7 linked regions of the Homo sapiens genome follow. Changing the gene in region 1 together with any one later gene gives a genetic interaction. Each region holds a gene or a part of one and is shown in the gene's direction. Other genes may lie near its edges. The genes, in order: BDP1, EMG1, RBM17, BNIP1, MFAP1, EIF3H and RPLP2.

The links.
Region 2: changes in BDP1 (region 1) and EMG1 together harm fitness less than expected from each alone (positive genetic interaction), as found in Homo sapiens cells (one large-scale study listed by BioGRID).
Region 3: changes in BDP1 (region 1) and RBM17 together harm fitness less than expected from each alone (positive genetic interaction), as found in Homo sapiens cells (one large-scale study listed by BioGRID).
Region 4: changes in BDP1 (region 1) and BNIP1 together harm fitness less than expected from each alone (positive genetic interaction), as found in Homo sapiens cells (one large-scale study listed by BioGRID).
Region 5: changes in BDP1 (region 1) and MFAP1 together harm fitness less than expected from each alone (positive genetic interaction), as found in Homo sapiens cells (one large-scale study listed by BioGRID).
Region 6: changes in BDP1 (region 1) and EIF3H together harm fitness less than expected from each alone (positive genetic interaction), as found in Homo sapiens cells (one large-scale study listed by BioGRID).
Region 7: changes in BDP1 (region 1) and RPLP2 together harm fitness less than expected from each alone (positive genetic interaction), as found in Homo sapiens cells (one large-scale study listed by BioGRID).

What each region holds. Positions count from the first base shown.
Region 1 is NC_000005.10:71,507,651-71,511,150, forward strand, and holds part of BDP1 (transcription factor TFIIIB component B'' homolog), read left to right. Parts: intron 1-1,814; coding exon 1,815-3,500. UniProt on the Homo sapiens protein: General activator of RNA polymerase III transcription. Requires for transcription from all three types of polymerase III promoters. Requires for transcription of genes with internal promoter elements and with promoter elements upstream of the initiation site.
Region 2 is NC_000012.12:6,977,175-6,980,436, forward strand, and holds the end of EMG1 (ribosomal RNA small subunit methyltransferase NEP1), read left to right. Parts: coding exon of another isoform or gene 1-88; 3' UTR 89-192; coding exon of another isoform or gene 193-351; 3' UTR 352-423; coding exon of another isoform or gene 424-571; 3' UTR 572-1,166; coding exon of another isoform or gene 1,167-1,333; 3' UTR 1,334-1,428; coding exon of another isoform or gene 1,429-1,515; 3' UTR 1,516-2,296; coding exon of another isoform or gene 2,297-2,405; 3' UTR 2,406-2,762; downstream 2,763-3,262. Other genes in the region: LPCAT3 (lysophospholipid acyltransferase 5), read right to left, coding at 1-88, 193-351, 424-571, 1,167-1,333, 1,429-1,515, 2,297-2,405. UniProt on the Homo sapiens protein: S-adenosyl-L-methionine-dependent pseudouridine N(1)-methyltransferase that methylates pseudouridine at position 1248 (Psi1248) in 18S rRNA.
Region 3 is NC_000010.11:6,095,534-6,099,033, forward strand, and holds part of RBM17 (splicing factor 45), read left to right. Parts: intron 1-1,514; 5' UTR 1,515-1,532; coding exon 1,533-1,655; intron 1,656-3,500. UniProt on the Homo sapiens protein: Splice factor that binds to the single-stranded 3'AG at the exon/intron border and promotes its utilization in the second catalytic step. Involved in the regulation of alternative splicing and the utilization of cryptic splice sites.
Region 4 is NC_000005.10:173,154,531-173,158,030, forward strand, and holds part of BNIP1 (vesicle transport protein SEC20), read left to right. Parts: intron 1-3,500. UniProt on the Homo sapiens protein: As part of a SNARE complex may be involved in endoplasmic reticulum membranes fusion and be required for the maintenance of endoplasmic reticulum organization. Also plays a role in apoptosis.
Region 5 is NC_000015.10:43,818,191-43,821,690, reverse strand, and holds part of MFAP1 (microfibrillar-associated protein 1), read left to right. Parts: intron 1-3,500. UniProt on the Homo sapiens protein: Involved in pre-mRNA splicing as a component of the spliceosome.
Region 6 is NC_000008.11:116,749,324-116,752,823, reverse strand, and holds part of EIF3H (eukaryotic translation initiation factor 3 subunit H), read left to right. Parts: intron 1-3,500.
Region 7 is NC_000011.10:808,653-812,766, forward strand, and holds the start of RPLP2 (large ribosomal subunit protein P2), read left to right. Parts: upstream 1-1,314; 5' UTR 1,315-1,387; intron 1,388-1,581; 5' UTR 1,582-1,582; coding exon 1,583-1,705; intron 1,706-2,944; coding exon 2,945-2,993; intron 2,994-3,028; exon of another isoform or gene 3,029-3,162; intron 3,163-3,882; coding exon 3,883-3,981; intron 3,982-4,107; coding exon 4,108-4,114. Other genes in the region: PIDD1 (p53-induced death domain-containing protein 1), read right to left, coding at 295-300. UniProt on the Homo sapiens protein: Plays an important role in the elongation step of protein synthesis.

The sequences.
Region 1 (3,500 bases):
AAGCTAGATGTTTCTGGATGGAGATGAAAAGTATCATAAATCAAAAAATGGAATGCGGTCCATTCAGGACTAATCAAATTAAATTTCCTTTATTGATTGCTGTTAATTTTACATTTAACGTTGTCAATTGCTAAAGTTAATGATGGATATAAACACTTCAGTTATGTAAACAAGTACAATTTGAAAAGCAATCTTATTCCTAAGGACCTGTCTTACAGTATCAAAAATTGCATTATTGAAAACAGTTATTTCAGTGAGGAAGGATAGTATAGGACCTAAAGAAGTTGAAACAAGCAATAGCATACTTTTGTTGTTTTGTTTTTGTTTCTGTTTGAGACAGAGTCTTACTCTGTTGCCCAGGTGGAGTGCAGTGGCATGATCTTGGCTCACTGCAACCTCCGCCCCCTGGGTTCCAGCTATTTTCCTGCTTTAGCCTCCCATGTAGCTGAGATTACAGGCGCGTGCCACCACGCCCTGCTAATTTTTGTATTTTGAGTAGAGACAGGGTTTCATCATGTTGGCCAGGCTGGTCTCAAACTCTTGACCTTAAGTGATCCACCTGTCTCAGCCTTCCAAAATGCTGGGATTACAGGCTGAGCCACCATGCCCAGCCTAGCATACTTTTAAGTAAATCTTTTGCTTATTTGTTTTGTTTTTTGTTTGTTTGTTTTGAGATGGGATCTTGCTCTCTTGCCCAATCTGGAGTGCAGTGGCATGATCATGGCTTACTGCAGCCTCATCCTTCCTGGGCTCAGGTGATCCTCCCACCTCAGCCTCCTGAATAGCTGGGACTACAGGTGCACGCCACCTCACTTGACTAATTTTTTTTTTTTTTGTAGAGATGGGATTTCTACCAAAAACTCATGGGCTCAAGCCATCTGCTTCAGCCTCCTGAAGTGCTAGGAGTACAGGCATGAAGCATCATGCCCAGCTCAATACGTCTTTTTTTAAGCTGTTGAATGTATAGTTATATACCTGTTCAGTCCGACATGGCCGAATACAATCTAGTGTTTCATTTGATCTAGCTTTTGCCCAATATTAATAACTTTTCCTAACCAGTCATTTAAAAGCCCTTTCATTCATTTATATGTTTATTGATTTTACCATCTATTATAATAAACAGAAAGCAAAACAAAAAGTGCTGCTGCTTTTCTGGAGAGCAAGGTGCTTGCTTTGGATAGTGGTTGTGTGCCCAGTAGCATTCAGCAAAGTATTATTGTGTATTTGGTCTGTCCTTTGATTCTTTACTTATGTTATGAAATAACAAGCCTTTAGAGAACTATCTGTATAGGAAATCTCATATAAAATTGGTTTTAAAAGGTGAGGAGGGCAGACCTCATTTGTAGTCCTAAGATTTAATCTTGGTCAAGTCATACTTGTATCCAGGTATTTGAGGTGGTCAGGTCTATTATGGCAAACCATTTGTCTGTATAAAAGATAGAAGGGATGAAGAGGTAGAAATAGCAGACATACATCAATCTAGCTCCAATGCAGAGAACTGGAGAGTCTTTCCCAGTCAGTATTTATAAATGGTAGTGTGAATGACAATTGGAAAGACACTGTTAGGATCAAATAGCTTCTATACTGATTGACCTTACTAGATATATATATATATTTAAACTTATTGCTGTGATTTCAAAAGGTGGGATTTTTTTTCTTTTAATTTTTAAATTTTACCCAGCGATTCCTAGGCCTTCCTTAATTTTTTTGAATTTGAGAGTTTCTGGTGTTTCTGTAGTGATTTCTCAAACATCATCTCTTCAGCAGGCAGTCTGGTTTAAAACTTGATTGTGTGCCCCCTTTTTTTTTTATAGCGTTCAAGAGAATAATAAGGCAAATAAACTTAACCAAGTCCCAATTCTAAGGACTCGATTTCAGAAACCAAAGCCAAATATAGGAAGAGGAACTGGAAGGAGAGAAATTTCCTCAAAGGAAGAGGTACTAGAGAAGATTCTTGTCTCTGGGGAAATGGCGGCAGCATTGAGAGAAACTGTAAGACTAGACACCTCACCAAAGGAGATGGTACCAGCAGAGATTAATACTAAAGAAATGCAGTCAGATTTAAAAGAAACTGGAAGAAGAGCCATTTCTCCCAGGGAGAAGATTCTAGATGTGATTGATGACACCATAGAAATGGAGACAGGTCTGAAAGCAATGGGAAGAGAGATTTGTCTAAGGGAGAAGACGCCAGAGGTGATTGATGCCACTGAGGAAATAGACAAAGATTTGGAAGAAGCTGGAAGAAGAGAAATATCCCCACAGAAAAATGGCCCAGAGGAGGTTAAGCCTCTAGGTGAAGTGGAGACAGATTTGAAAGCAACTGGAAATGAGAGTTCCCCAAGGGAGAAGACACCAGAGGTGACTGATGCCACTGAGGAAATAGACAAAAATTTGGAAGAAACTGGAAGAAGAAAAATATCCCCAAGGGAAAATGGCCCAGAGGAGGTCAAGCCTGTAGATGAAATGGAGACAGATTTGAACGCAACTGGAAGAGAGAGTTCTCCAAGGGAGAAGACACCAGAGGTGATTGATGCTACTGAGGAAATAGATTTGGAAGAAACTGAAAGAGAAGTATCCCCACAGGAAAATGGACTAGAGGAGGTCAAGCCTCTAGGTGAAATGGAGACGGATTTGAAAGCAACTGGAAGAGACAGTTTCCCAAGGGGGAAGACACCAGAGGTGATTGATGCCATTGAGGAAATAGAGATAGATTTGGAAGAAACTGAAAGAGAAATATCCCCACAGGAAAATGGCCTAGAGGAGGTTAAGCCTCTAGGTGAAATGCAAACAGATTTGAAAGCAACCGGAAGGGAGATTTCCCCAAGGGAGAAGACACCAGAGGTGATTGATGCCACTGAGGAAATAGACAAAGATCTGGAAGAAACTGGAAGAAGAGAAATATCCCCAGAGGAAAATGGCCCAGAGGAGGTCAAGCCTGTAGATGAAATGGAGACAGACTTGAAAACAACTGGAAGAGAGGGTTCCTCAAGGGAGAAGACACGAGAGGTGATTGATGCTGCTGAGGTAATAGAGACAGATTTGGAAGAAACTGAAAGAGAAATATCGCCACAGGAAAATGGCCCAGAGGAGGTCAAGCCTGTAGGTAAAATGGAGACAGATTTGAAAGAAATTAGAGAAGAAATTTCCCAAAGGGAAAAGGTGCTAGCAGAGTTCAGTGCTATAAGGGAAAAGGAGATTGATTTGAAAGAAACTGGAAAAAGAGACATTCCCATCATGGAGAAAGTATCAGGAAAGATGGCTGTTGTTGAAGAAATGGAGGCAGATTTGAAAGAAACTGGAAAAGAAAATTTTAGAGAGAGAGGATCTGAAGAGATCTGTGTTACTGAGGAAAAGGTGGCAGAATTGAAACAAACTGGAAAAACAGACATTTCTCCAAGGGAAAACGAGCTAGAGGAGACCAGTACCTCAAGACAAACTGACACACATTTAATGCAGAGCGGTAGCAATGACTTCAGTGCTGTGCCTTCACTAGATATTCA
Region 2 (3,262 bases), on another chromosome or scaffold:
TTGGCACCATTGCTTTGTGAATATAAGGCAATATGAATAGTAGGCTCAGGAAGAAGATGTGGCCAAGGAAATAGATGGATTTATACACCTGTGGAGAGAGAGGCCACTAAGGTAGACAGGCCTGGAGTGTCCTTTGCAACCTTTGAGGTTGCAGTGAGTCCCTCCCAGTCTCACAAGCAGGCCTTCACTTGCCTTAAGCCATTTGTCCCACGTGAAGAGGCAGAAGGCAGTCATGGAGTAACCCATGAAGAGCCAGTGGATGGTCTGTTGCACCAAATAGTAGAAGGGCTGGAGGACAGTAATGGCGGCCAGCTTGCTCAGGGTGGGGCTCTCTTGAATGAGCCTGGCAGCCTGGGGAGGGAGGAGGAGCTCATCAGCATCTTGTCCCTTATATTCCCCTTCACCCCCACCCTGGAGGCCTACCTGTCTTTCCACAATAACAATGAGGAATTCCATCTGGAAGCAGACCAGGTATCCTGAGTGCAGGCCGTGCCAGAGGGCCAGGAATAGCAACGAGAGACCCTGAGAGAGTTCTTTATTTCCAAGGAACTTGAGTCGTTTGAAGATGTAGCTGGAGAAAAGGGTGGGTGGGGCGACCCTCAAACTGACTGGTCCTTGCATCCCGCCACCTGCCTCTGGGTCCTCACCCTGAGGATTGGATTGGAGTGCTGGTGGGTTCCCACGTGTAGCCCCCAGAGGGTACAGGAGGCAGTGCTGACTGATTACTTTTAGAGATGGAAAGCAGACCCAAGGCGGAGCTGGAGACCGTGTGCGCACGAGCCACTTGGTTCAGCAGCAGTGACTGAGGCTGATGCTGAGATCAGTGGTGAACCAGACACTCTACTCAAGCTGCCCACACTCTAGTGGTGGGGACAAACAAGTAAAGCTGTTGATAAACAGGGCAGTGGAGGACATAAGTCCATTGGCAGAGCTGGAGTAACACCCAGGTCTTAACGCACTTTTATATCTTGCCTTTTTTTCAAATATGACAGTAATGGTTTTTTTGGGAGGGGGGTATAGGTGGGGGTCAAAGTCAGTGTGAGCGACAGGGGGTTCTGCCCAGATGGGAAAGACGCATAGGGGTGACATGGTACACCCCTGCCCTCCAATCTGGGAAGACAGTGGAAGGAAGGAACCAGGGTCCAGGCTCCCCACCAGCAGCTCACCGGGCCACCCAGGCGTTGGTGTTGATGTTGAATGAGGCAATGGTGCCAGTGAAGCGGGGGTTTGTTTCAAAGAGCCACACCTTCATGTTGGCACAGGCATCCCACTTTGCCTTGCCCTTTTCTTCAAAGCCATTGAAGCCCAGGCCCGTCAAAATGCATACTCCTTCCTGAGAGGGAATAGCTCAGTTAGGGCTCTTGCCACTCCCCATACTGGCCCCCATGGCTTGTCTAAATAGGACCTTGTTTCAACTTTTCTACTTACTGTGACCAGCCAACAGGTGACATATTTGTACAGCACAAACTTGCCCCAGATCAGCATGTACATGCAGCGGAACCAGAAGGGGTGGTTCTTGAGGGAAGAAAGCACAGTGCATTAGGGATATCACATGACTAGGCAGTTTCTCTCAGCACTCTTCCTTTTCACACTTGTGGCTGGCTACTTCATACCTGCCTGAGTCCTGCTGCCAGATGCCCTCAATAGTCTGGCCTGATTGCCTTCACAATAGGCAGAGAGGAATAAGCAGAGGGCCTGGAGAATATTCATTCGCCTTTCCCTTGGAGAGCCTCAAGGGCAGCACTGTATTTAACTTCTCTACTGTTTGCCTTCGTTGGCAAAGTGTTTGGAATGAGCATTTGGAATGTTAAGTACAGAGGGGCCCATATTGGATTTTAATTTAAGGAGAGAAACCTGCCCAGAATTACTGAACTGTTTTCAAGCCTTTCAGCTGGGCAGGAGCAAAAGCCAGCACTTCCCCCCTTCCCTTGGTTTCTGAATTCCCTAGAAGTGCCCAAATGTATCAGTCAAGAGAAGAAAATAGGATGGAGAATCAGAAGCTGCTGTGCTCTGAGGGGTCACGTGGATGTGATAAGGCAAGCTAGGAGCGGCTCCTAGAGAAGGCAACGGGTGCTAAATGTGCACCTGGCACAGCCCTGTGCCCGCGAAGGTTGTTCAGTGCTGGCTGATGAACATGTCCCAGCACGGCTGGCATTGACAACTCACAGATCTAGAGCAAAACCAACATGCACTTGTAGATGATATTTCCTACTTCTCTGCTATCTGTAGGGATCCTTGCCTGTCCATTTTCTAGCTCTGGTGCAGTCATGCTGCTGCTGCTTTAGTAGACACTCACGTCATAGTCTTCAGTGAGGAGATAGTCTTCTGTGATGTGGGGGCTGAGCAGTGTGTAGCCCACTAGGTAGAAAAGGCCCAGACTCAGGCGCTTGAGAGCAGGAATGATGCTGGAAAGGAACGAGTGAAGTTCCTGGTCACAGAGAGCAGAGACTATTCCCTTCACCCTCTGACCTTCAGTTATGGAGAGGAGTGTTTAGGGGTGTGGTTGTCTACCTGGAATGGGATGAGAAGCTCTGCTGCCCAAAGTGTTTCCTGTTTCAGGGAAAGATTTCTATGGCTGGCTATGAGGAATGGGGACTGCAAACCTCTTAAGAGTTGTAGGAAAGTCAGGGCAGCAGACAGTGGACCAGTCTTGTGTTTACCCCTCAGGGATGCTACTGATCTCAAGGTCTTGCCAGGTCTCACAATCTCCATTGGGACTGAAAACCCAGTGGAGGTAAGATAATAAAAATAACCACTTTGAATCTGCTCCTTCATTTCTTGGTTGAATTGATGCTGAAACACAGGATGGACAAGTTCTCAGTGAAGGAATTCTTCTGGCAATTAAACTTTTTTTTTTTTTTTTTTTTTACCATTTTAATTTTTATTTTCTAGAGTCAGGGCCTTGCTCTGCCACTCCGGCTAGAGTACAGAGGCATAGTCATTGCTCGCTGTGGCCTTGAACTCCTGGGCTCAAGCGATCCCCTTGCCTTGGCCACCTGAGTAGCTGGGACTATAGGCATGTACCACCTTGCCTGGATAATTTTTTTTTGTAGAGATGGGGTCTCACTATGTTGCCCAGGCTGGTCTTGAACTCCTGGCCTCCAGTGATCCTCCTGCCTTGGCCTCCCAGAGCGTTGGCATTACAGGCATGAGCCACTGTGCCCTCCTGCATTTCCTACTGATAAATATTTTTGAGACAGGATTTTGCTATGTTGCCCAGAATGGAGTGCAGTGGTGTGATCAAAGCTCACTGCAGCCTTGA
Region 3 (3,500 bases), on another chromosome or scaffold:
TTCATTTGAGCAGTCGGCCATCAATACCCCTGGACAGTCTGCTTTCCCTGCTTCTCTACGGCCTTGCGGGGACCTTTCATTTAAAAATCAAAATGGAGAGGTTTTAGTTAATTTGAGGGTTCACGTATGAAGGAATGGAAGAAACTAAAAAGTGGTGACAGTTTTCTGGGGTGCTGACTTCAGGCAGGGAGTTACTGTACTTAAGACCAGGGCAGTTCTTCTGAGGGAACAGAAGTTGGTGTGCACTCCGTCCCCCACTCCACACAGTGTGGTACCAACATCAGCGAAGGTGTTGGGGCGGCAGGGTCTTAGAATCCCTGTAATGGGGGAGCTGAGAAGTAAGAGTACCTTCAAGAGAAATGCTTGCCGAATCAGACCTAAGGAGGGTATGTGTTAAATATTTTCCTCCTCTCCTGAGCCACAGAACACAAGCAAATTAGGCTTTTCAATAACACGGTTTCCATGGGAAAATGCTTTATGGGCCCCCTGGGAACTGACAGACTTATTTGTCCATAAACTGGGAACTACTGTGCTAAGCATTTACTTGCAATTTGTGGGTTTCTGTTTAAATTAAGTTCTCTTTCTGTCTGTGAGATTGATTTCTTATTTGAAGAAGTAAGCTATGTTGGTGGGTTTCAGAATGTTGATTTTTTTTTTAAAAAGTGGCAGTTGGGGTTCACTGGCGAGGGCTCTGGAGTTGGCCTGGCTGGGTTGGAAGGGGCTTCCGCTGTGGCCTTGGGCAGATTGATTCCCTAAACCCCAGCATCCATGTCTGTGCAGTGCTGGGCTTTCATGGGACCTGCTGCCGATGCTGCATTGCATGTCATGCTTTGCGCCTGCTGACTCGGTTTTTGTTTCCACGTGTTCCTCTGTTCTGCACGGAAGCTGTGTGTTGCTCGTTCACATGCAGATTGTTGATTGTCTCTTTGTAATCACTATCATTAAAGATGACAGATTTCCACTTGGTGTGATATGAGGAAATCAGAGTATTTAAGATGTAACCAGTCTACTCCCCCCTTGATAATTGTAATTGACAAAATCACATCTAAGAGATCATTTCTGTCATTTTTTTCCCTAGGAGTACGTTTAAATTTTTTCTTTATAAAAGGGTAGCTAATTGTGCTACATCAACCTGCTAATTGGTGTTTTTGTAAAGCTTCTACTTTTTGGCACTGACATAAATAGAATTTTTTAAAAATTGGATATATGTAATTAATAATGTTCCAATTCTTACCTCATTATGTGCCCTAGCATTGAAGGATTTCACTCATGGATCACTTGACTGCATGATCTTATAGATGGAAAAATGAATTTTAGAGGCTTATTTTAAAAATAATCCATGGTCTAGCTTCATGTATCAGGAATAGCCCTACATTAATGGTACCAGGAGCCTGGGCCTCTGTTGCTGAAAGGTCCTGGACCTTTTACCTCTAAAATTTCATGATACTTATTTTAACATGAAAAGCCTTTATTGAATTGTGCATTCTTTAATCCCCACCCCTTTTGCCTTTCAGCATTAAACTGAAGAAAAGATGTCCCTGTACGATGACCTAGGAGTGGAGACCAGTGACTCAAAAACAGAAGGCTGGTCCAAAAACTTCAAACTTCTGCAGTCTCAGCTTCAGGTGAAGAAGGCAGCTCTCACTCAGGCAAAGGTAAAGACAAGCCCAGAGCATGAGAGCAGAGGCCTCCAGAGTGGGTTCCTCATTAGGATGACAAGGAATTTGGTTTCAGCTTGCTCTTCTGCCTTTGTATTGGGTAAATGGTGTTAAGCATTTGTAGGGGGAGAGGAATGAGGAGTTTAAGGCCACTTTGCTACTCCTGGCTCCTGGGAATAGGAACATTTCGTGGGGTAGGAATGAAGAAAAACAGTACTCTGCGGGGGCTGGGCGCAGTGGCTCACGCCTGTAATCCCAGCATTTTGGGAGGCCAAGGCAGGCAGATCACGAGGTCAGGAGATCCAGACCATCCTGGCTAACAAGGTGAAACACCGCGGGCGCAGTGGTGGGCACCTGTACTGCCAGCTACTCGGGAGGCTGAGGCAGGAGAATGGCGTGAACCCGGGAGGCAGAGCTTGCAGTGAGCCGAGATCGCGCCACTGCGCTCCAGCCTGAGCGACAGAGCAAGACTCCGATTCAAAAACAAACAAACAAACAAACAAAAAAACAGTACTCTGAACCAGCAGTGACACTGCTTTTCAAACTTAAGTAGTGGAGGTCTAAGATTGAGTGAGAACTTGTTTAAGGTGCTAATTTTGTAGCCTTACTCCTGATATTCTGGTAAACTGTAGTTCAGGCTGGAGCCCCAGGAGTGGGAATTTTTAAGTAGCATTCCTACTGGTTTGGTGGAGGTAGTTTGGAAGCAGCACTTTGGGAAGAAGCTCCACAGAATACCTAAGCTGCTGCGTGCAACTTATTGAGGGCTCAGGTTGATTGTGAAGGCGTCAGGCATAGGTAGTCTGGATGCTGATTGCTTTTGTTTCTGTTGTGTACATGTTGGGTATTGGCAATGTCCTTGAAATAACATGTAAAACATTAAAAACCTAGTTGTCGACTGGATATTTGCCATTAAAATGTAGGCATGAGAATGGTATTATGGTTTGTTTACTACTTTAGAGATCTTTATGTTCTAGAGTATGCATTCGTAATGGAGGCTATATCCCCCCAAACAGAGCGAATATTGGTCTTTTTGGGGGTGAAAAAACCTTGCTCGTGTTGTGCACAGTGTATCTGTGGTGTGAAAATTTCATGTGCGGGAGAAAATTTAGTCAAAGGCTCCTTGCTGGGGAGGCAGTAATTAAAGTTGAGAAAAAGTACTTTAGAGATGTGTACTGAAATATTTACCGATAAGATGATGTCATTTTTGGGATTTACTTCTAAACAATTCAGTCCCGGGCAGGGGAGGGAGGGAAGAACAGAACTACCCATGAGTTGATAATTGTTGAAACTGGATGTGGATAGTAGAGACTTAAGAATTAATATTAATCTCTAATTTCATGTTTGAAAATTTCCGTAATACACAGGTTTTTTGTTTTTTTTTTTTTTTTTTTTTTTTTTTTTTGAGACGTAGTCTCACTTTGTAGCCCAGGCTGGAGCGCAGTGGCATGATCTCAGCTCACTGCAAGCTCCGCCTCCCAGGTTCACGCCATTCTCCTGTCTCAGCCTCCTGAGTAACTGGGACTACAGGCGCCCACCACTGCGCCTGCGGTGTTTCACCTTGTAAGCCAGGATGGTCTCGATTTCCTGACCTCGTGATCCGCCTGCCTTGGTCTCCCAAAGTGCTGGGATTACAGGCGTGAGCCACCGTGTCCGGCCAATACACAGGTTTTTTTTCTTAAAAGTTCTACTCATTTTTCTTTTCCCTTTACCACATCAATAGATACTTACATGGAAGTGCTTACATTTGATTGTTCAGTATTGTAGAGAGGTTTTTTTGTGTTTTTAAAATTCATCATTACCAAATTTAGATTTTTTGGATGCCAGTATTTTGTGTTTTTTTTA
Region 4 (3,500 bases), about 100 Mb from region 1:
TTTTTTTTGAGAGACGGTGTCTCGCTCTATTGCCCAGGCTGGAGTGCAGTGGCCTGATCTTGGCTCACTGTGACCTCTGCCTCCCGAGTTCAAGCAATTCTTCTGCCTCAGCCTCCTGAGTAGCTGGGATTACAGGCGCCCACCATCACGCCTGGCTAATTTTTGTATTTTTACTAGAGACAGAGTTTCGCTGTGTTGGCCAGGCTGGTCTCTAACACTGGCCTCATGTGATTCACCCACCTTGGCTTCCCAAAGTGCTGGGATTACAGGTGTGAGCAACCACGCCCAGCCAATTGCATCAGTTACACACTGGTGGAATGTTCTCTCTCAGTCAGCAATAGTCAAGTGGGGGCGAGTGGGGAAGGGATAAATAGGGCCTATCTGAGCAGGTGGAGCTGAACATAGTTTACAAAAGCATATTTAACATTATACTGTATTGTATATTTTTAATCAAAAAATATGATTGCTTTTGTAATACAGGGTCATTTTTTATCTAAGGATAATTGGTACCAGAAAAAATCTACAGAAAGAAAACCTGCTGAAGGTGGACCAAAATTTAGAAGGTTTTGAGTGGGATGCTGTCTAAAAATAAAATAAAATAAAATGCAAGAAAAACCGTAAATTAAACAAAATTGAGGTCAAAAATTAAAACCAAAATCGAGGTTGTAATTGCAGGTGTGTGCTAATCCTTGATTATATAGTTACAGTTATATGCCATTTCTTGTTATTGAATTGGGAGAGGTTTAACTTTTCCAATGAAATTGTCAGACAACATGAAACAGTATCTTTCCCTTCACATTTGACTTTTGTACCAATCATAAAGAGGGTTTTTCCAAACATATTTGAGGTATTCAGATCATTCTCTCTCTTTTTTAAAAATACATTTTTGGCCCAGTGCGGCGGCTCACGCCTGGAATCCCAGCGCTTTGGGAGGCCGAGGTGGGCAGATCATGAGGTCAGGAGTTCGAGACCAGCTTGACCAACATGGTGAAACCCCTCTCTACTAAAAATACAAAAATTAGCCGGGTGTGGTGGCACACACCTGTAATCCCAGCTACTCGGGAGGCTGAGGCAGGAGAATCGCTTGAGCCCGGGAGGCAGAGGTTGCAGTGAGCCGAGATTGCTGCACTCCAGCCTGGGTGACAGAGTGAGACTCCACCTTAAAAACAAAAAAAAAATATTTTTATTTTTAAAAAATTAAAAAATTTTGGAAATGAGGTCCTTCTCTGTTGCCCAGTCTGGAGTACAGTCATAGCTTACTGCAGCCTCAGGAACTCCTGGGCTCAAGCGATCCTCTCACCTCAGCTTCCCAAGTAGTTGGGACTACAGCACACTCCACCGTGCCTGGCTAAATCATTCTCTTTTGAAACCCCTGCTAAGTTGTCATTCCCATGGGTTTTCTCTTTGTCTCTTGTTCACTGGTCTGCCTCTGCCAGATCTGTATTTGTGGCTTTGCTTCTGATTTGAGCAATTTGCCAGCATCATCTTCCCTGCAAGCAGCTGTGTATGTAACAGTCAGCTGTCAGGAAGACACCGACTGGCAAAAACACAGGCACAGGGAGGCCAGTGTAAGCAGGGAGGGCTGTATGAGTGGTGGGCAGTGATCCAGGGCTTGGCTATTTCACGAATACTTTATGTTATGATGGCTTTTGCTTTCCTGAGCCACCAAGCCTACTCAGATTATAAACACTGAGTACAGAGGAGCCCTTGTATAAAGTATGGTAAGTTATGCCAGACACACTCAGCTTAGCATGGGTTTAAAGCTGGGAATGGCCATCCACAATGTAGCATTACAGGCCAGAGCAGAGAAAGCTGTCAATTTATACTTTGGGGCTATGTGCAGTAGCTCACACCTATAATCCCAGCACTTCGGGGGCCGAGGCAGGAGGACTGCTTGAGCCCAGGAGTTTAAGACCATCCTGGGCAACAAAGCAAAACCTCATCTATTAAAAAAAAAAAAAATTAGCTGGGGGCATGCTGATGTGTGCCTGTAGTCTCAACTACTTGGGAGGCCAAGGCAGGAGGGCAGTGGGCTCGGGAGGTCAAGGCTGCAGTGAGCCGTGATCATGTGACTGCACCTGGCCTAGGAGACAGAACGAGACCCTGCCTCTTTTCTTTTGTTTTTTTTTTTTTTTGAGACAGAGTCTCACTCTGTCACCCAGGCTGGAGTGCAGTGGCGCAATCTCGGCTCACTGCAAGCTCCACCTCCCGGGTTCACGCCATTCTCCTGCCTCAGCCTCTCCGAGTAGCTGGGACTACAGGCACCCGCCACCACGCCTGGCTCATTTTTTATATTTTTAGTAGAGATGGGGTTTCTCCGTGTTAGCCAGGACGGTCTCGATCACCTGACCCTCATGATCCGCCGGTCTCAGCCTCCCAAAGTGCTGGGATTACAGGCGTGAGGCACCGTGCCCAGCCGACCCTGTCTCAAAAAAAAAACAAAAAAAACAAAAAAAACCAACTTTGGCAGTTGAAGCAGTAGTTGTGCTTGCTTGGGTCATCATGCTTGTCACACCATACAGTGAGTATCTGTTTGCTTGTCTTTTTCCCAAATGAATGTGAGGTGGTTGAGGAGAAGTACTGCCCCTCATTCATCTCTGGATCCCAGGGTCCTGCAGAACCCCCTTGCAAACTGTTTCAAAATGTAATGGATTCTTTAAAGTGGCAGGTGTGAAATGGCGGAGCAGGTGCTCATTAAGACCTTCAGCATAAAGGTGCTATTAGAAAACCACCCTGTCAGTTCATGTACTCTGTGTTTTGATTTTTGAGTATTTCCAGAGATTAGCACAATTGGTTTGAGCTGGCTACATAAGAGTTCTGAAGTATGAGTTTGATTCTTAGAGAGACGCAGTTAGCTTTTTTATAGTCTATCAACAACTGTCAACATTTCTTTTTTTTTTTGAGACGGAGTCTTACTCTCATTGCCCAGGCTGGAGTGCAGTGGCGTGATCTTGGCTCACTGCAACCTCTGCCTCCTAGATTCAAGTGATTTTCCTGCCTCAGACTCCCGAGTAGCTGGGATTACAGGCACTCGCCATCATGTCCAGCTAATTTTTGTATTTTTAGTAGAGACAGGGTTTTAACATGTTGGCCAGGCTGGTCTCGAACTCCTGACCTCAAGTGACCCACCCGCCTCGGCCTCTCAAAGTGTTGGGATTACAGATGTGAGCCACCACGCCCGGTCAACTGTCACATTTCTAACTCCAGGAAGCTGTTCACCAACTTTCCGTTATCACCCACAAGTTAGCGCAGGTGAAGACTGTAGATCCGCCGTGTCAGTCAGGGCTCTGCTAATCCATCATGTTTGTGTCATTCATGATTGGTCTGTAGTATGGAAAGAACAACAAACCTTGAAGAAATATTTTGAAAGATTGGCTTTTTGTGTGTGTGTGTGTGTTTTTTTTTTTTTTTCTTGAGAGAAGGTCTTACTCTGTCACCCAGGCTGGAGTATAGTGGTACTATCACGGCTCACTGCAACCTCCACTTCCCAGGCTCAGGTG
Region 5 (3,500 bases), on another chromosome or scaffold:
CGTCTTTAATCCATCTGGAATTTTTGTGTCTGTGGTGGAAGTTAGAGGTCTAATTTTACTATATGGTTGGCCAATTGTCCCTTCTCACCCCATCCATTTTCTACTGATTTTTAATGCCATCCCTATAATATACTCGAGTTCTCATATAAGTTTGTTTTTCTTTTCTCTGTTACATTGATCTCTGTGTACTTCCTGGGTCACTGACATATCTGGTAAACTATGCCCCACCCCTCCTTCCCCGCCCCCATCAGCTTTATTCTTCTTCAGCATTGTCTTGGCATTTTGGGGCCTCCTGTTCTTCCATATGATTTTGGAATAAGCCTGGAGACAACTTTTAATGGAATTGCATTAAAATGATAGATTATACATTTATAGGTTAATTCAGGTGCAGTTGCCATCTTCTCATCCTTGAACATGAAATATTTCTCTATTTACATCTTTTTTATCTTTCAATAAAATTACATATTTTTCCTCCTAAAAGCCTTGTACATTGTTTGTTGGATTTATTCCACAGTATCTTATAGATTACTTGTGACCGTTAATGGTATTTTAAAACTATATTTTCTTCAGCCTGGGCAACATAGCGAGACCCCAAAAAATACAGTGCTCTACAAAAAAACAAAATTACCTGGGTGGTACCTGTCTGTAGTCCCAGCTACTGAGAGGCTGAAGAGGGAGGCTCACTTTAGCCCAGGAGGTTGAGACTGCAGTGAGCTGTGATCATGCCACTGCACACCAGCCTGGGTAACAGAATGAGACCCTTTCTCAAACAGTAGAAAATAAGCCAGGCATGGTGGCTCACGCCTGTAATCCCAGCACTTTGGGAGGCCCTAGGCAAGAGGATCACTTGAGTCCAGGAGTTCAAGACCAGCATGGGCAGCATAGTGAGACCTCGTCTGTACAAAAAAATTTTAAAAATTAGACCGGCATGGTGTTGCACGCCTGTAGTCCCAGCTACTTGGGAGGCTGAGGCAGGAGAATGGTTTGAGCCTAGGAGGCTGACGCTGCGGTGAGCCATGATTGCGCCACCGCACTCCACCCTAGGCAACAGAGTGAGACCCTGTCTCAAGAAAATAAATAAAAATAAAATTGTACTTTCTAATTATATGTAGCTAATGTACAGGTATGCTTATTTTTATAAATAAGTTTTTTATCTAGCATTTTTTCTGAACTCTTTTATCTATTTGTTATCTTGTGTTTTCTACAAAGACAACCATATAATCTGCAAATTATGGCAGTTTCTTCCTTTTAAATCCTTATAACTTTTCCTTATTGCCCAAATTAGAACCATAATACAGTGTTGACTAGAAGGTGTGATAGGTACAACATTAGGATGCTCACTGGTTTTTTTTGTTGTTGTTGTTTGTTTTTTTTGAGATGGAGTCTTACCCTGTCGCCTAGGCTGGAGTGCAGTGGCGCGATCTCGGCTCACTGCAAGCTCCGCCCCTGGGTTCACACCATTCTCCTGCCTCAGCCTCTTGAGTAGCTGGGACTACAGGTGCGTGCCACCACACCCGGCTAATTTTTTGGTTTTTTGTTTTTTTGAGACGGAGTCTCGCTCTCTTGCCCAAGCTGGAGTGCAGTGGTGCTATCTCGCTCACTGCAAGCTCTGTGTCCCGGGTTCACGCCATTCTCCTGCCTCAGCCTCCCAAGTAGCTGGGACTACAGGCACTCGCCACCATGCCTGGCTAATTTTTTTGTCTTTTTAGTGGAGATGGGGTTTCACTGTGTTAGCCAGGATGTTCTCAATTTCCTGACGTTGTGATCCGTCCGCCTTGGCCTCCCAGAGTGCTGGGATTACAGGCGTGAGCCACCACACCCAGCTGGATGCCCACTGATTTTTAAAGAGAATGCTTCTGGCCAGTCACAGTGGCTCACACCTGAAATCCCAGCACTTTATGATACTGAGGCTGGCAGATCACCTGAGGTCAGGAGTTCAAGACCAGCCTGGCCTACATGTTGAAACCCTGTCTTTACTAAAAAATACACAAATTAGCCAGGCATGGTGGTGGGCACCTGTAATCCCAGCTACTCAGGAGCCTGAGGCAGGGAGAATTGCTTGAACCCAGGGGGCGGAGGTTGCAGTGAGCGGAGATCATGCCACTGCACTGCAGCCTGGGCAACAGAGCGAGACTCCATCTCAAAAAAAATAAATAAATAAATAAATAGAATGTTTCTATTGTTTTATCATTAAGTATAAAGTCTGCTGTATCTATTATTTTTTAAAAATGTGACTTTAAAAAATAGTAGGCTAGGAGAGATGGCTCACACCTGTAATCCTAGCACTTTGGGAGACTGAGGCTGGAGGATCACTTGAGGCCAGGAGTCCAAGGCCAGCTTGGGCAACATAGCAAGACCCTTTCTCTACCTTTTAAAAAATAACAAACAAAAATAAAATTTTAAAAAGTAAAAATAGTATATTGCTTCCCTCCCATTGTTCATCTATCTATCTATGTACATTTTTTTTTGGAATTTTGTTTTGTTTTGTTTTGTTTTTAAAGACAGAGTCTTACTGTGTTGCCCAGGCTGGAGTGCAGTAGCACGATCTCAGCTCACTGCAACCTCCACCTTCCAGGTTCAAGTTATTCTCCTGCCTCAGCCACCTGAGTAGCTTGGATTAAAAAGTCTGTGCCACCATGTCTGGCTAATTTTTGTATTTTTAGTAGAGACGGAGTTTTGCCATGTTGGGCAGGCTGGTCTCGAACTCCTAGCCTCAACTGATCTGCCCACCTTGGCTTTCCAAAGTGCTGGGATTACAAGCATGAGCCACTGTGCCCAGCTATATATATTTTTGTGTTTGACACAGGGTCTCACTCTATCACTCAGGCTAAAGTGAGTGCCTTGGTGTGGTCATGGCTTGCCGCAGCCTCAACCTCCTGGGCTCCAGTGATTCTCCCACCTCAGCCTCCCATGTAGCTTGGGACCACAGGCATATACCACTATGTCCGGGTAATTTTTTTTGTTTTTAGTAGAGATGAGGTCTAAACCCAGGCTGGTCTCGAACTCCTGGGTTTAAGCAATCCTCCTGCCTCAACCTTCCAAAATGCTGCGATTATAGGCATGAGCCACTGCACCTGGCCCCCTCATTAATTTTCTAAGGTCAAACTATCCTTCTAGTCTTGGGCTAAATTCTAATAAGTTGTGTTGGTCTAGGGGTTTTTTTTTTTTGTTTCTTTTTTTTTTTTTGGTAGTTTTTATATTGCTGGGATAAATTTGCTCTTACGTTATTTAGTATTTTTGTATTTGTGTTTGTAAGTGAAATCCACCTAAAGTTTTCCTTTGAACTGTCCAATTTGGTTATCAAGGTTATACTCATAAAATAAGTTGGTTAGTTTTCACTGTCTTTGTTCACTAGAATTGTTTGTATTTGTAGGCTGGGTGCTGTGGCTCACGCCTGTAATCCCAGCACTTTGGGAGGCTGAGGTGGGCGGATCATGAGGTCAGGAGATCGAGACCATCATGGCTAATACGGTGAAACCCCATCTCTACTAAAAATACAA
Region 6 (3,500 bases), on another chromosome or scaffold:
TTCCTTCCTTCCTTCCTTCCTTCCTTCCCTCCCTCCCTCCCTCCCTCCCTCCCTCCCTCCCTCCCTCCCTCTTTCTTTCTTTCTTTCTCTTCTTTCTTTCTTTCTTTCTTTCTTTCTTTCTTTCTTTCTTTCTTTCTTTCTTTCTTTCTTTCTTTCTTCATTTCTGTCTTGATGAACAGTGTTACTCTTAGGAAAGCAATATTACATACTAGCCAAGAGAATCTTGACGACAGACTTGGATTCAGATCCTTATTCCAGCAGTAAGCATGACCTTGGGGAAGTTATTAAATTTTCTAGGCCTCAGGTGTATCCTTTGTAAAATGGGGATGATGATAAAGTAGTAACTCATAAGGGTTGTGAGAATGAAATTCCGAGGTATTTAAAGTGTTTAGTATAGTACCTGTGTCATCGTAAACACTCAGATTACTGTGTCTTTACCACTCTCATCCTTATTAATGTTTCTCAAATCATTTCGAATGCTAACTTTGCTAATGTAGATTGGAATTGTAGAAAGAGCACTTCAGTGCTCCTGGTAATCAGGAGACATGCATTCCAGTCTGCATCCACCAGTAACTAACAACACTTCTATGATTGTTTTACTCCAAAGGTACATTTTCTCATCCACAAAATGATTGCCACTATCCCTATCAATTTTCATGGTTTATGGTTTCTTTCTTTTGCTTTCATACCTGAATCCTGAGGGTTCTTATTGGTGTGTGACCCCAGTCAATCACTATCCTTCCTTTTAGGCCACTTACTCCTTTCCTTTTATGTTTCTTCTCCATCTGTGCATATTGGAGTGCCTCATGGTTTAGGTTTTGGCTTTTCTTTTAGTCTCTGCTTGACATAGGTAGTGTAACGAAGTTGATAAAAGTACATGCTCTGGAGCCAGACTGCTTGGATTTGAATCCCAGCTCTGAAATTTGCTGCATGACATTGGGCAAGTCTTTGTGCCTCATTTTCCTCATCTGAATTGTTTTGAGACTTTAAATGGATTGAATATATGTCAATAACTAGAACAATGTCTGGGACAGAATAAGTCACCATTTAAGCTTTGCTGCTGCTTTATTTGCAGTAATTATAGTAGTATTCTTTAAGGTATTCTTATCTGTGCTCACGGCTTTAAATATTTATATTCTAATAAGTCCTAGATTTATATTTCTGCCAGTAATGGCTCTTGAATGCCTCTTTTGAATACCCATTGCCTGTTTGACGTCACTATTTGGATATCTCATAGGCATCTCATATTTAACATGTACAAAATAGAATTATAGACTTGTTCTTCTCCTTACTTTCCATCACAGCACCCTATATTTCTAGAATTTTCCACAGCCTGTAACTATCTTGTTTGTTTTCTTCTTTGTTTTCCTCATCAGAATGTATGCTACTGAGGGCAGGGACTATGCTTTTTCACCTGTTTTATCTCCAGTGCTGAACCTGTTAATTCACAAAGTAGGATAAATGAATGAGTATGTATTCCATTTTATTATTTATACTAATTTATGTTCTAATATCTTATGCAGGTTATTTTAATATTGTTTTCCCCTGCCTTCTTCAGTCTACCATTCATACTTTTATTTTATTTTATTTTATTTTATTTTATTTTTTTTTTGAGACGGAGTCTCGCTCTGTCGCCCAGGCTGGAGTGCAGTGGCGCAATCTCGGCTCACTGCAAGCTCCGCCTCCCGGGTTCACGCCATTCTCCTGCCTCAGCCTCCCAAGTAGCTGGGACTACAGGCGCCTGCCACTACGCCCGGCTAATTTTTTGTATTTTTAGTAGAGACGGGGTTTCACCGTTTTAGCCGGGATGGTCTCGATCTCCTGACCTCGTGATCCGCCCGCCTCGGCCTCCCAAAGTGCTGGGATTACAGGCGTGAGCCACCGTGCCCGGCCTCATACTTTTATTAAAACGTTTATTTAACGTGAACATTCAGATTTTAACTTCTTTCCTTAGATGTTTTCAGTGACTTTCCATTGAATTGAAGGACCAAAATGTTGTCCTTGTTTCTTGCATTTATGTTCAGGTTTATTTCCTTTCTTTCCAAGCTTTGTAGGAACTGTACATTCCAGCCCCTCAGACTACTTAGTTTTTTCTTTAATAAGTCATGCTAAAGGCCAGGTGTGGTGGCTCACGCCTGTAATCCCAGCACTTTGGGAGGCCAAGGCAGGCAGATCACACGAGGTCAGGAGATCAAGACCGTCCTGGCTAACATGGTGAAACCCTGTCTCTACTAAAAATACAAAAAATTAGTCGGGCGTGGTGGCGGGTGCCTGTAGTCCCAGCTACTCAGGAGGCTGAGGCAGGGGAATGGCATGAACCGGGGAGGCGGAGCTTGCAGTGAGCCGAGATTGCACCACTGCACTCCAGATTGGGCGACAGAGCGAGACTCCGTCTCAGAAAAAAAAAAAAAAAAAAAAAAGTCATGCTAAAGACAGACCTAGAGTCACATCCTTATTCAAAGCAGTAAGCATGACCTTGCTTTTGTTCATGAAGTTCTTTCTCTTTGAAATTGTTCTCTTTCATCATCACATATTGAATAAAAAATGTGACTTAATCGACTTACTCTGTTTTTTTAAAAATTCTCCATATAGTTTAACTTGAATCTGTATACTCCAGATGTATTCTGTTCTTCATTCATTTAACAAATATTTATTGATTGCCGACCACATGCCAGGTCTAGCCCTGCTACATGCTGGGGTATATTGCAGTAACCTATATAAGATATTATATAGGTGAGCAAGGTAGAACCCAGTCCCGACTCTCATGACCATTCTCAGTCATATATAGATGTAGATGAACCCAGAGATTAATCTCATCCTATGTTTAGCCTGATGTTTTAACACATTTGTTCCTTCCTGGCACATTGATAGTGGCCAAGACCAATTTTTCTTGTATTTTTGAACCCTTCCTTTCCTACCTTTAGACCTGTTTCATCACTTCCTCTGTATCTGTAATGTAGCAGTCCCTCCACAGGGCTTGTTTTCCAAAGAAAAGTAAGCCCTCCACAGGGCTTGTTTTCCAAAGAAAAGTATCATTTGGAGGAGCAAAGTTATAAGCCTACCTAAGCATGTCGTAAAGCTGTTCAAAAATAACTCAGAGCTAGTCTTGTGGATGGAAATGTAGTGCCTGAGTCACATTCTGCTTAAAGTTGTAACAAATACAGATGAGTTAAAAGAAAAAAAACAAAAATAAAGAAAGAATGGGTCTTCATTCTGTCAGGTGGTCTCATTGTTCCTAGACAAGATCAAGCTAATTCTTCCCGTTAAACTTTTCATGTTGAACCCACTTTGTTCCCTAGAACATTTGAATTTTACCTTTCTTATGTTCATTAGACCTTGCTATTCAAAGTATGATCCATGTCCAGTAAGATGAGCAATGTTGGCTACACTTGAGTTTGTTAGAAATGCAGACATACGTATCACAGAATCTCAGGCCCCTCTCCTGACCTACACAATCAGGTGATTTATAGCATTTTACTGTTTGAGAAGAAGCTTGCTCT
Region 7 (4,114 bases), on another chromosome or scaffold:
GCCACTGCACTCCAGGCTGGGCGACAGAATGGGGCCCAGTCTCAAAAATTACAAAATAAGAAAAGTCCCATTGTTCCCAAGATGGTTTCCCGCCTTTACCCCAGATGTGTGACCCTGAGCAAAAAAACCTTTCTGTACCCAACTGCCTCATCTATAAAATGGGGGTAATGATAACGAGGCCACAGAAGGCGACTGTGAAGTCGAGTTCCAGTGCTTGACGTATACACACCCCAGGGTTTGCACTGCTGTTAGAGCCCAACGGGAGCTGGCGCTGCCTGCTAACACGGTAGATACCTGCATCTGACCCTGTTCCTGGTGCTCGCCCGGGATATTGGCAGGGATGGCTCCTTCTCATCTCTCAGCTCAAGCTTTCTCAGGCTGCCCAGAGGACCAAGTCTCCCTCTGTCCCTGTCCTTCGGATCGCCTCCCTATTCACCTCCTGCGTCCTCGCACAAGAACTCAAGTCCTTAGGAGGCAGGGCCAACCCTGTTCCCTCCCAGGACCCGAGAATGTAGCGGGGTCCCTGAGGTGCTGATGTCCACATGGACACCGAGGTCAGTTCCGGGCCAAAGCGGCCAGCGCAGGGGCTGACCACTCAGACCTCACTCCTCGCAGGGGTGAGCGGGCGACGCTGCCTCACGTCATTGTCCTGCCCTCCAAGGCCCGCGCTCGTCCTCTGACAGGATGCCCTGACACCGCAGTGCGGGGGCGGCCTCCCAGATAGGGCCGCAGTCGCTAAGTCCGAGGCGGCTGGCTCACCTCACTGAGCCCGGCTGGACGTGGGACCACCGGTCGCCGCGGCCAGGGAACCACCAAGGAGTCAAGGCGAGCCTACCGCCAGCAGCTTCTGCCCGGGCCCACGCGCCGTTCCGGGTAGGCCCGCGGCGCAGGCCACTTCCGGCAGCGGTGCACCATGGGACTTGCAGTTCGCTGGCAAAGGTTGAGTCCCGGGCGTGGCGGCCGCGCTCCATGTTGGGAGCTGTAGGCGCCGCGTGGCATGCTGGGGGTGCTAGGTACCGAAGGCAGATGCCGTCCCTTTGGACTCGCTTCGTCCAACGCCCCCACGAGTTTCGGTGGCCCTTCGCCCCACGCTATAAGAGCAGTCACTTCCGGAACTGCTGCCCTTCGCCTTTGCCGCGAAAAGTGCCTGACGGGGGCTGGGAAGGGGGAGGGGGAAGGAGTCAACGACTCCCTCCCCGTCGTCATTGGCTGAGCGCCTCGTGACGTCACTCTGAGGCGCCTCATGCGGCGCCGCGCACGGGTCCCAGAGCCTTCTGGGTAGCGGTTTAACCCCGCCTCTTGCGTCGGCGCCTTCCTTTTCCTCCCTGTCGCCACCGAGGTCGCACGCGTGAGACTTCTCCGCCGCCTCCGCCGCAGACGCCGCCGCGTGAGTGTGGTGACCGGGCCCGGGGTGCCGGCTGGGGACGCGGAGTCCGTGGGGATGCGGGGTGGGCGGCGGGGTATTTTTGGGACGGAGGCCTACGGGCCGAGCCACGCGCGGCCTCGCCCGGCGGCCCCGGGATGGGCCGGCAGGAGGCCGCCGGGGTAACTCCGCCGTCGCGTCCTCTCCGCCCGCCTCAGGATGCGCTACGTCGCCTCCTACCTGCTGGCTGCCCTAGGGGGCAACTCCTCCCCCAGCGCCAAGGACATCAAGAAGATCTTGGACAGCGTGGGTATCGAGGCGGACGACGACCGGCTCAACAAGGTAGCGGCCGCCCTTGCCCCGCAGCCGCCGTGGGGCCCCAGTGTCCCATACAGGCGATTCTTCTGCCTGATCCGGCCACATGCTGGAGGGTTCGGGGAGAGGCTCGTTTCAGTCTAGTTGGCGATTTCTTGGATAGAGAAGTAAGCCGGGCGGAGGTCGGGCGCGGTGGCTCACGCCTGTAGTCCCAGTACTTTGGGAGGACGAGGCAGGCGGATCACCTGAGGTCAGGGGTTCGAGACCAGCCTGGTAAACATGTCGAAACCCCATCCCTACTAAAAATACAAAAATTAGCCGGGCGTGGTGGTGGGTGCCTGTAGTCCCCCTACTTGGGAGGCTGAGGCAGGAAAATCGCTCGAACCCGGGAGATGGAGGTTGCACGGATCGTGCCACTGTACTCCAGTCTGGGTGGCAGAAGGAGACCCTGTCTCAAAAGGAAAAAAAAAAAAAAAAGCAGGGTGGGTACGAGGCAAAATCGTGATTAACAAGCTTTGGAAGTTTAATACCAGTGAGCTGCGTAAGATTGCGTTAAAAAAAAAAAAAAGCAGTCCTGGCGCATGGCTCACCCGGCTTTGGGAGGCCATGGCGAGTGGATTATTGGAGCCTTGAAGTTCGAGACTGGTCTGGAAAACATTGCAAGACCCGGTCTCCACAAAAAAAAAAAAAAAAAAAAATGGTTGGAGGCAGTGGTGCACATCTGTAGTCTCAGCTACTCATGAGGCTGATGCGGGAGAATCATTTGAGCCTTAGAGGTCAAGGCTGCACTGAGTAGTGATTGTGCCACTGCAGTCTAACAGAACCAGGCCTCGTCTCTAAAATACAATAAAAAATTAGCCAGGCTTGGTTGCTCATGCCTGTAGTCCCAGACTGAGGTGGGATAGTCACTTGAGCCCGGGAGGTCAAGGCTGCAGTGAGATCCTACCACTGCACTCCAGCCTGAAGTCAAAGTCAATTTCATTGCCAGTTTATTTTGCCAGTGTTGAAGATACCTATGAGTAGTCAACATAAGTAGTGAGATGCCCTGTGTCCTTTTGTCAGTCCTAAGTCTAAGAAAGCTAGTGTCCATTTATTTTTATATCACTTCCCAAGTGAGGCTGGTGGCTCCCTTTGGGCAGTGCAGTTCTGGAAACTTCAGGGCCTATTCCCATGTGGGGAACCCAGTCCTGCTGTGACTCTGGGAGGGAGAGGGCCGGGGATACAATCGTACATTCCTGGTAACAGCCCTGTGATTGTCTGCTTCAGGTTATCAGTGAGCTGAATGGAAAAAACATTGAAGACGTCATTGCCCAGGGTGAGTTGATGTGGACGGGCTTTCGTTTGTTTTCATGGTCCATCCTAATCCCTGCCGGTCCATCTGTGGCCTGCCAGGTTTCGCTTGTGGACCAGAGCACCCTAGAAGCCTCACCCGAGGAGTGAGCAGGGCTCCAGTGGGCTCACGTCATGGGCACTTCTAGACACTCTCAGGAGCAGGGCAGCAGGGGGCACCCTGTGTTCTCAGCAGACGTTTAGGTGGCCCTGCCTCTTAAGCCTGACTGCTCCTAGCCCTGAGGCCATTCCCCAGGATTTGTCTGAAGCTTGGTGTCTGGAGAACTGAGTTCACGTCAGCAGTCCTTACCACATGCTTTCTGTGAGGGGGTTGGGGGCAGGGACTGAGGGTGCCAGGGATGTCCATAGGCTCCTTGCCTCTTTGTTGGGCAGATGGTTTTTTGTTGGCTTCAGCTGAGCTGGTGGAACTTGTTTGGAAGTTGAGCTGTTGGGGCAGCTGTTCTTGTCTTCCATGCATGTGACCACGACAGGGCCAGCTCAGCAAACGGGCCAAGCCATGAACACAGCGTTGTGGCCAGAGATGTGGATACTGGGGCAGCACACTCATTCCCTACCTAGTTATGAACATGTCTGTCCAGTGGACCTCTGAGGGTGGAGGTGGGGAAATTGGGCAGGCAGGCAGTGTGGGCCTAATTCCTAGAAGGCAAGTCCCTGGATAGGAAAGGTGGGGAAGAGAAGTCCCCGTTGAGGAGTGGCTCAGGGAGGGAGTGTTCAGGAAGAACGGGAGACACTGGCATATGGTGGGTCCAGATATGTTGGGTGCCATGTGCCATCTCTGGTGCCATCTAACTTCCCTGTGGAACAGCCTCCCAGGCTGGGCAGCTGCTCTGGTCTCACCTCTCTGCTTTCTGTAGGTATTGGCAAGCTTGCCAGTGTACCTGCTGGTGGGGCTGTAGCCGTCTCTGCTGCCCCAGGCTCTGCAGCCCCTGCTGCTGGTTCTGCCCCTGCTGCAGGTAAGTGGTGGCCTGGTGAGTGGGCAAGGGGCTGGGGCTCAGACGGTGTTGCTGCAGTGGGGTCTTCATGGGGGGACTGGCCTGGCACTTGGGCAGTGCTCACCATGCCTCTCCTCTGTTCCACAGCAGAGGA